Linked DNA regions of Homo sapiens. The protein of the gene in region 1 purifies or fractionates together with the protein of each later gene. This does not show direct contact. Each region holds a gene or a part of one and is shown on either strand. Other genes may lie near its edges.

The links.
Region 2: the proteins of SFTPD (region 1) and DNAJC2 fractionate together in Homo sapiens (co-fractionation; one large-scale study listed by BioGRID). This does not show direct contact.

Annotation. Positions count from the first base shown.
Region 1 is NC_000010.11:79,939,062-79,942,880, forward strand, and holds part of SFTPD (pulmonary surfactant-associated protein D precursor), read right to left. Parts: intron 3,819-3,819; coding exon 3,702-3,818; intron 3,444-3,701; coding exon 3,327-3,443; intron 3,010-3,326; coding exon 2,893-3,009; intron 2,454-2,892; coding exon 2,337-2,453; intron 1,728-2,336; coding exon 1,644-1,727; intron 1-1,643.
Region 2 is NC_000007.14:103,313,648-103,317,466, reverse strand, and holds part of DNAJC2 (dnaJ homolog subfamily C member 2), read left to right. Parts: intron 1-452; coding exon 453-637; intron 638-1,378; coding exon 1,379-1,479; intron 1,480-1,595; coding exon 1,596-1,703; intron 1,704-2,780; exon of another isoform or gene 2,781-3,819. UniProt on the Homo sapiens protein: Acts both as a chaperone in the cytosol and as a chromatin regulator in the nucleus.

The DNA.
Region 1 (3,819 bases):
CTAAAATGAGGGCTCACTTCACAAAAGCTGTTGCGTGGGCAAGGGAAAGTCACTTCCCTTTTCAGGGTTTCCATTTCCTCATCTCTAAAATGAGGGCTCACTTCACAAAAGCATTGCCTGTGTGACATGTCAAGTATCTCTTTTTAGTCTGTCTTTGTGGCTCTTGGGCCCATGCATGGAAATCTTCCGCAAAGGACACTGGAAGCTCCAGAGAAGGCTGTGCCCCTGGCTTTGTTGGGCTGCTCAGAATGCAGGCTGCACCCTGACTCATCGTCCTTAAGATTCTCCATGGGCTCAGGGTGGCACCCAGAGCAGCCCTGAACAAAGTCAGCATAAGAGTTCATGTACCATTACTAAGTTTATGTGCCATGCACATATGTGGGCATGCCTTTGAATATATGTGCATCTACCCAAAGGTACGTGGGAGTATGTAAGGTTCATCTGGATGTGTGTGCATATTTGTGTGTGCTATATAGACAACATATGAGCTCATGTATGTAGATGGAGGTGGAGTGAGTGATGGTGTTTAAGTGCACACACATGCAGTGGGTGCATATGGACATGTTCCTCTGTGTGTTTCTGTCACTGTGCCTCTGAGTGAATTAGAGCATATGCAGAAAGAGATATATACCAAATGCTTGAAACTCTCATTTCAGAGCTTGGGTACTTAGAAGCCAAACCTGTGTTGCACCCAGTCAGCCCTTTTATGCTCTACTACTTCAGAAAACTTTAATCTTTTATTTTTTGGCTCAATGAGATGCGCCTGAACTCAAAGCTGATATCAGGAAAGGCGGAGGAGAGTAGGGGCAGTTGGGCACTGATGTGGAGATTCAAAAAGGCACCAGGCCCTCAGCTGTGTGTCCCTGGAGGCCTCTGACTCTTCAGGATTCCAGGGTTAGGGCAAAGTCTGCTTTAAAATACCTCCAGAGCTGCAGGTAGAGCCCAGCAGTGGCTGGAGCCCAGAAGCAGCCTGCCCCCTATTTGAACCAAGAGCACGTCTAAGGTGAGATATCTGATGGCCACATACCAAGGTCAGGCCCCCACCTGCCTTGTACCCCCAGAGCAGAACCCCAGTCCTAGTTCCCAGAACAGTATCTGGTTTCTGGGCTGCCTTGGGATGTGCAGCAGCATCACTGGGGACTCCCATACCTGGCCCCTCTGAGCTAAGAAATGCAGCCCGTGTTGGGTAGCCCCTTATCTATCAGAGGGACCAGCACAAAGTAGGCAGGAGAGAGGCTCTACTGAATTGCACTGGACTCAGGACAACAATTTATCTCAGGGCACAGGTGGCATTGAGGTTGGTGGGTAGTTCAGGAGCCTGATGGCCTTAACTATGCTACTGCCAGCCTGGTGAGCTGGTGATAGGGGCCACATCCTCCTCCTTTGCCCCCTTGGATCTACTTTGAGCTCCAGGAGCAGGTGGCTGCCCTCTTCTAGCCCCATCCCAGCCTGAGCCCTACCCCCTGCCACAGTCCCAGGTCCAGCCCTACACAGGTCCCAGCTCATTCCCATCCTAGACCCAGGGCAGGCTCTGCCTCAGGTCCAGCCAAAGGTCTAGCCCCAGCCAAAGGCCAAACCAAGGTCAAGATCTAGTGTGGGGCCCAATGCCAGTGCTGGGTCCAGGTTCAGATCCAGGAACTCACCTTTCTTATACTGAGAGAAAGCAGCCTGGAGGTGCTGTACTTGTCCCTGTAAGGCCTCAACCTGCTGCCTCAGAGAAGCAACATCTGGAGGGGAGAAAATGGCCAAGTAAAGACTTGTCCAGAGAGCGAAGGAAGAGCTCAGAGTCTGGGCCCCAAAGGAAGGGTGTCTAGTTTCGGGCACATATTGTGGGGCTGACCCACAGCAAGCCCACATCTACTGACACAGCTGGCCTCTGCTGTGTAAGGATGTCTTATGGTTCTGCTATGAACAAATTGCTGCCTGTACTTCACTGACACTGAACCAGATGACATTGTGACTTTAAAGTCTTGGAATATAATGGCATCTCCATTGGGTGGGTGGGGGGGTTGCTGGGCAGGAATACACACTCATGTGTTTCCTATCCACTGGGTTTTTAATGCCCAAAACTGTCCTATGAATTGGGAAGGCAGTTGTAGTTTTCCCGATAGTCAGATGGAGAAGCTGCCCAGGTTGCTTTCCCATGAGTACTAAGTGGCTAAGACCAGAGCCCCATGCTCCTGCCTTCCAGCCTGTCCGCCTTTCCTGAGTTCCACCCACCAGCTGCCATTAATGGGGCACACATCCCAGAGCCCCTCCTCTGGGATGAGGAGGGCTTCCTCTCTGCCCACCCATGCCCCAGCGGGGCTTCCCTGGGCCAGGAGCTGCTACCTTACCTGGAAGCCCACTTTCTCCCTTTGCTCCTTTGTCTCCAGGAATGCCTTTGTCCCCCTTCAATCCCGGGGGTCCCCTGGCACCTGGACTTCCCTGGGGACCCATGGCTCCAGCAGACCCTGGGGTAAAAGAAGAACTGGGTGAGCTATGTACTCATTTTATTTTTTTTGTTTTTAGCATTTTTACCTTCCCATACATGGACTAACTATCCTTATTGCCCAGAAATAGACAGATGGTCCCCAGTACCCAGCCATGCAGCTCCCTGTACACTGACTGTCCCTGTCACCCAGCAATCAACCCCGCTGTGGAAAACTGCCCCGCCACCCAACAACTAACCTTCCCTGTATACAGACTTCTCCATTGCTTGCGCCTCACTCTCCCTAGATAGGAACAGTCCCCAGAGCCCCCTCATGCACCCTTCTTGGATACAGATTCTCTCCATGTTCCAGCGATACCACCTCTGCCTTTGTGGGTGGTGGAGGGGGTGTAGGCATTGACAGCTCCAAGCAGGCACAGGAGAACTGGACCCAGCCCAGCCCAGCTCTTTCCACTGCTCACCTGCTGCCCCTGTGTTTCCAGGGACTCCACGCTCACCAGGGACACCTCGCTCTCCCTTAGGGCCTGCGAGGCCTCTTGCCCCTGCCGAGCCCTGCATGCCTGGGGCACCTACTTCTCCTGAAGAAGGAACACACAGGAACAAACACAGCTAAGAGCGCGTTCAGCAGGTGTGGTTTTGTTAGCAATGGAGCTTTTTGCCCGCAACTTTAGGGTCAGAGAGAGAAGTGGGGAGACTCTCCTTGCTTTCTGGGGCTCCTCTGTGGAGGGTGAGAGGAAAATATTGCAGTTGTGGGGATTGGGAGGGTGCATGGCAAGCCTTTGCAGCATCAAGGGTCTGGGCTCTCCCTGGCACTCTGAGCACGCCTCAGGTCATATCATGGACCCTTGTCCTTCCTCCTTTCCCTTCTCAGACTGGCCACAGACCAGCCACCTACCTTTGGGCCCAGCTTCTCCTTTTGGGCCTGGCTTGCCCTGAGGTCCTATGTTCCCCTGCTTCCCCAGGGGACCTTCTCTTCCAGCTGGACCAGGCACACCGGGAGGTCCTGGAGGTCCTGAGCAAAAGCACCAGCCCGGTCAGTAACAATGAATCCTCTTGGCAGGAGGAGTGTGTAGTAAGGTGAGGGTAATAACAGAGGTAAGGGAGGCAGCATTGTTGTCCTCCCAACAGCAGGTCCCATCTGTCCTGAAATGACCCAGTGCCACCTTCAGACAACCTTCTTCCTGGGATGGGCTCTGTGCGTGCCCACTGGCATATCCTTGCAGCTGCACCACCACCTGGAAACACCTGAAGTCGACACCCAGTTGCTCACCACTTGGCCCAGTGTCTCCCTTTGGTCCAGGTTCTCCAACAGAGCCATTGTCCCCTTTGGGCCCAACTGGGCCAGCTTGTCCAGGCATCCCTGCTTGCCCTGCAGCTCCTGGCAAACC
Region 2 (3,819 bases), on another chromosome or scaffold:
AAGGTAGTCTAGAAGGAACAATGTAAATGGTAGAGCTTCAAAATAAAAGAGGCCATTTTGCTATGCCTTCACCTTTTGGTAGAGAATAAATGAGATTGTCTGCAGAAAGGGTGAATATGAGTTTGAAGAGAGGTTTGAAATGGCCTTGTGGATGAATAACTCAGTGACCCACAGACTTGTCAATTAGTGTCCAAGGCTAATGGAAGTCACATGACATGAGTACTGGGAAAATCAGGCAGGCTGTGGGCAGTTCTTGGTCCCTCAGGCAGACCTATGCAGACTGGAAGCCAGAGTGAAAAGCTGGTGCTTCTTTTTGGGTTGGCCTGAGAGGAGTATGGGGTCAGAGTGAGAATGACATTGAGAGTTGAGGACCACAAAGCCCTAGCCAGGAAGAGAGTGTAGAATAGCAATACAGTATACTTCTAAGTCCCTGACTTATGATATTTGTGCAGATAGAAGAAATAAATGAGCAAATCAGAAAAGAGAAAGAGGAAGCTGAGGCTCGTATGCGACAAGCATCTAAGAACACAGAGAAATCAACTGGTGGAGGTGGAAATGGAAGTAAAAATTGGTCAGAAGATGATCTACAATTACTAATTAAAGCTGTGAATCTGTTCCCTGCTGGAACAAATTCAAGGTACTGGTTTTAATGAAACTTTTCTTCAACTCACACTGGAGCCTGGAGATAATGTAGACAGACTCCAAATAGCAGCACTTGTTATCACAGAAACTTGCAGAGATAAATTCTGTGCCACAGCAGAAAAGTGTGAAAAGTGAGGTGCATTTTGAAGCTGTCAGTCTTACCCATTGCATCAGTACACATGCACATATACATATGACAGAATACTTGTTTCTCAGGAAATTGAAGATCATGAGACAAGTCTTGATTTATGTTGGCTTACTCTGTCATGGCTTGTTCTAGGGATTAGGTTTTCTGTAGTTTTTCTTTTACAGTCTTGCTCTTTGTTTTTTCCCACCTCAAGCTGGAGCTTGAGTTTAACTGCAAGAAAGCCCTAGAGATCCAGCGTCCCTAATTCTATAGATGAAACCGAGGCTGTTTTCAGAATGATTGATCTTCTGAAGAAATGTATTAAACTGGCAGTATACACAAATAAGTGGTTTTATTTATGTTGATTTGTACACCAAATCTGTAAGATGTATGGACTTAAAACCAAGATTATCGTTGATTTAAACACATGAAAAGCAAAAACCGTAGTCCAGGCAACAGGAATTTATAGTAGCAGCATAATTAGACCACCAATCTGAGCTCATTCTGTACATACTATAACCTTTCTGCAGTAAAAATCTAATGGTTTTTGTCGTTTCATTTTGTTTTTCCTTACTACTATTCATATTATTGTATAATATATCCTATCAGATGGGAAGTTATTGCTAATTACATGAACATACATTCTTCCTCTGGAGTCAAAAGAACTGCCAAAGATGTTATTGGCAAAGCAAAGAGTCTCCAAAAACTTGGTGAGTTTTGAGAAGTCCATTTGTTACTTTAAACACCTATTTTTAAAATAACTTATGCAATTTAATGAAAGATTAAATGATGATCTGTTAAGTATTAAATTTTTTTCATTTCTCAGACCCTCATCAAAAAGATGACATAAATAAAAAGGCATTTGATAAGTTCAAAAAAGAACATGGAGTGGTACCTCAAGCAGACAACGCAACGCCTTCAGAACGATTTGAAGGTAAATTTTGCTTTTCTAAACGTAGAAAATGCTAGCCATGTATCTGTGCTGCTTGGACGTACAAGACTTAGGGTCTATGTTCAGAATGATAGGGAAATAAAATGTTTAGCAGACTGGAAGCTGTAAGCAAACATTTCCAGGGCAAAGATTTACTTCACCTAACCATTAAAAATGGAGAATTGCAGTTGTTCCATTTCAGATGCCATTAGAGAAGGGGGCTGTTTGTTTTGCTTACCAGGTTTTACAAAACAGTGTTAGAGGATATTATTGGGACTAAAGAATAGTGTTATATCGGGATAATTGCTTGATTTTGAGAAATGTACTGTAATTATATAAGAAAATGTCCTTATGTTTAAGGAAAAACACAGAAGTGTTAAGGAATAAAGAGGCATCATGTCTGTAACTTATGGTTCAAAGTATGTCTGTACATATAGGTAAAAATAATTAGCAAATATGAAAATGTTCACATTTGGGGAATGTAGGCAGAGTATACAGGGATTCTTTCTACTCCTCTAAAATTATTTCAAAATAAAATGTTAAAAATTGTTAGGGTTCAAAACCAGGAAACATAGTAAGACTCAAAAAAAAAAAAAATGTTAGGGTTTGATATTATCTTGGGTGTTGTGATTACTCTAGACCAATGCTTTTCATGTTACAAATCATGACCCATCACTGGGTCATGAAGTCAATTTAGTGTGTTGAATAGAAAATGAGTGTTACACCCATTATATGGGTGGGTATACTTGTGAAACTCTTGATCACGTGTGTCTTTGTTTAGGATGTGATATAAATTTTTTTCTTGCTATGACAAGGTTTGAAAGCAGTTTATGTGGAAAAAGTTCTTTCACTTCATGTTTTGTGAGCCACCAATCCTTTCTTAAACTAATCGCAGAAAGATGCTTTTGGATTAATAGACTTGACTATACATAAGCTGTTTCTTTCTTCTAAGAGTCCCAGTTTTACCTATATTCTTTAATCTTGCTTATTATCCCAAAATTTCAACTTAAAGATATGAGACTTACAGTGTTAATATAGGGGAGGAAAATCATTGCAAAAATCAGCAGTGACTTGTTTGGCTGAGTTAGGCATTATTTCGGTTCTTTTAATAAAGGTAAGTAACAAGGCAGGGTTTCAGAACACCTGAAAGACACTTCTTTATAAAGGAGTTTATTCTCCTGCACCTTTATCTCCACAAAATACAACAGGTATTAGCACACTAGTCTCAGCTCTTTCTTAGGGGGACTTGTTTCCATGTTGGAGGGAGGTGGGCCCTGATATTTGTCCAGTCTGCTTTCTGTGAGGAGAGGTGACCCTGTGAAGGCAAGAGTGACTGGCAGTAGTGCTATGTGGGTATGACTCCTTTGCCTCTTTTATGGAAATGGGAAGGCTCCTTCCTCTTCAGTTGTACCATTAAACAGCAAGCTGGCACCATTTTTTGAATAGTGATTTCTCATAGGAGTTTTGCAACAGTACGTTTAATTTATTTTGGTATTGTGAAGTAACTGGAGAACAGCAGGAAATACTGCCATGTCACTTCCATCTTTTTTCCAAGAGAGGAAATAAAATCTATGGTATTTAGGGCTTTAAACCAATACAAGGAAATTCAACAAAAGACTTCCTAGAACTTAAAAGCTACCTTCAAAAAAGCTTCTTAGGCACCTTAGGTACCATCAAATATTATACAAATTCTCTGCTTTGTTTTGAATAGGTGGTGGTTTTGTTTTGTTTTGTTTTGTTTTTCCTTCTTTAATTGGGAAGGAACTTTGGTTTCTAGGCTTAACTTTTAACAGATCTCACAGGCCGCAGTTTCTAGTAGTAGTCAGGCTACTGGTAGTATTAGTCTGTGTTGTCACTGCATAGTCTGAAATAACTAAATTGCCAGAAGTCCATTAACTTAACCAAATCAGCTTTCTACCACTTAACATTCTACTTTTACCTACACAAGTGGACTGTGTAATACTTAACATCCTTAAGAAACATATTTGTTTCTGACACACATCTTAGATGTTTTCTGAAATATACAAGGTTTAGTTGAAGAACCACAATAGCAGTTATTGGAAGTGTTCAGCATCGGCTCCCAAGATTTTAGCAGATGTGACGAAGAGAACACCACACT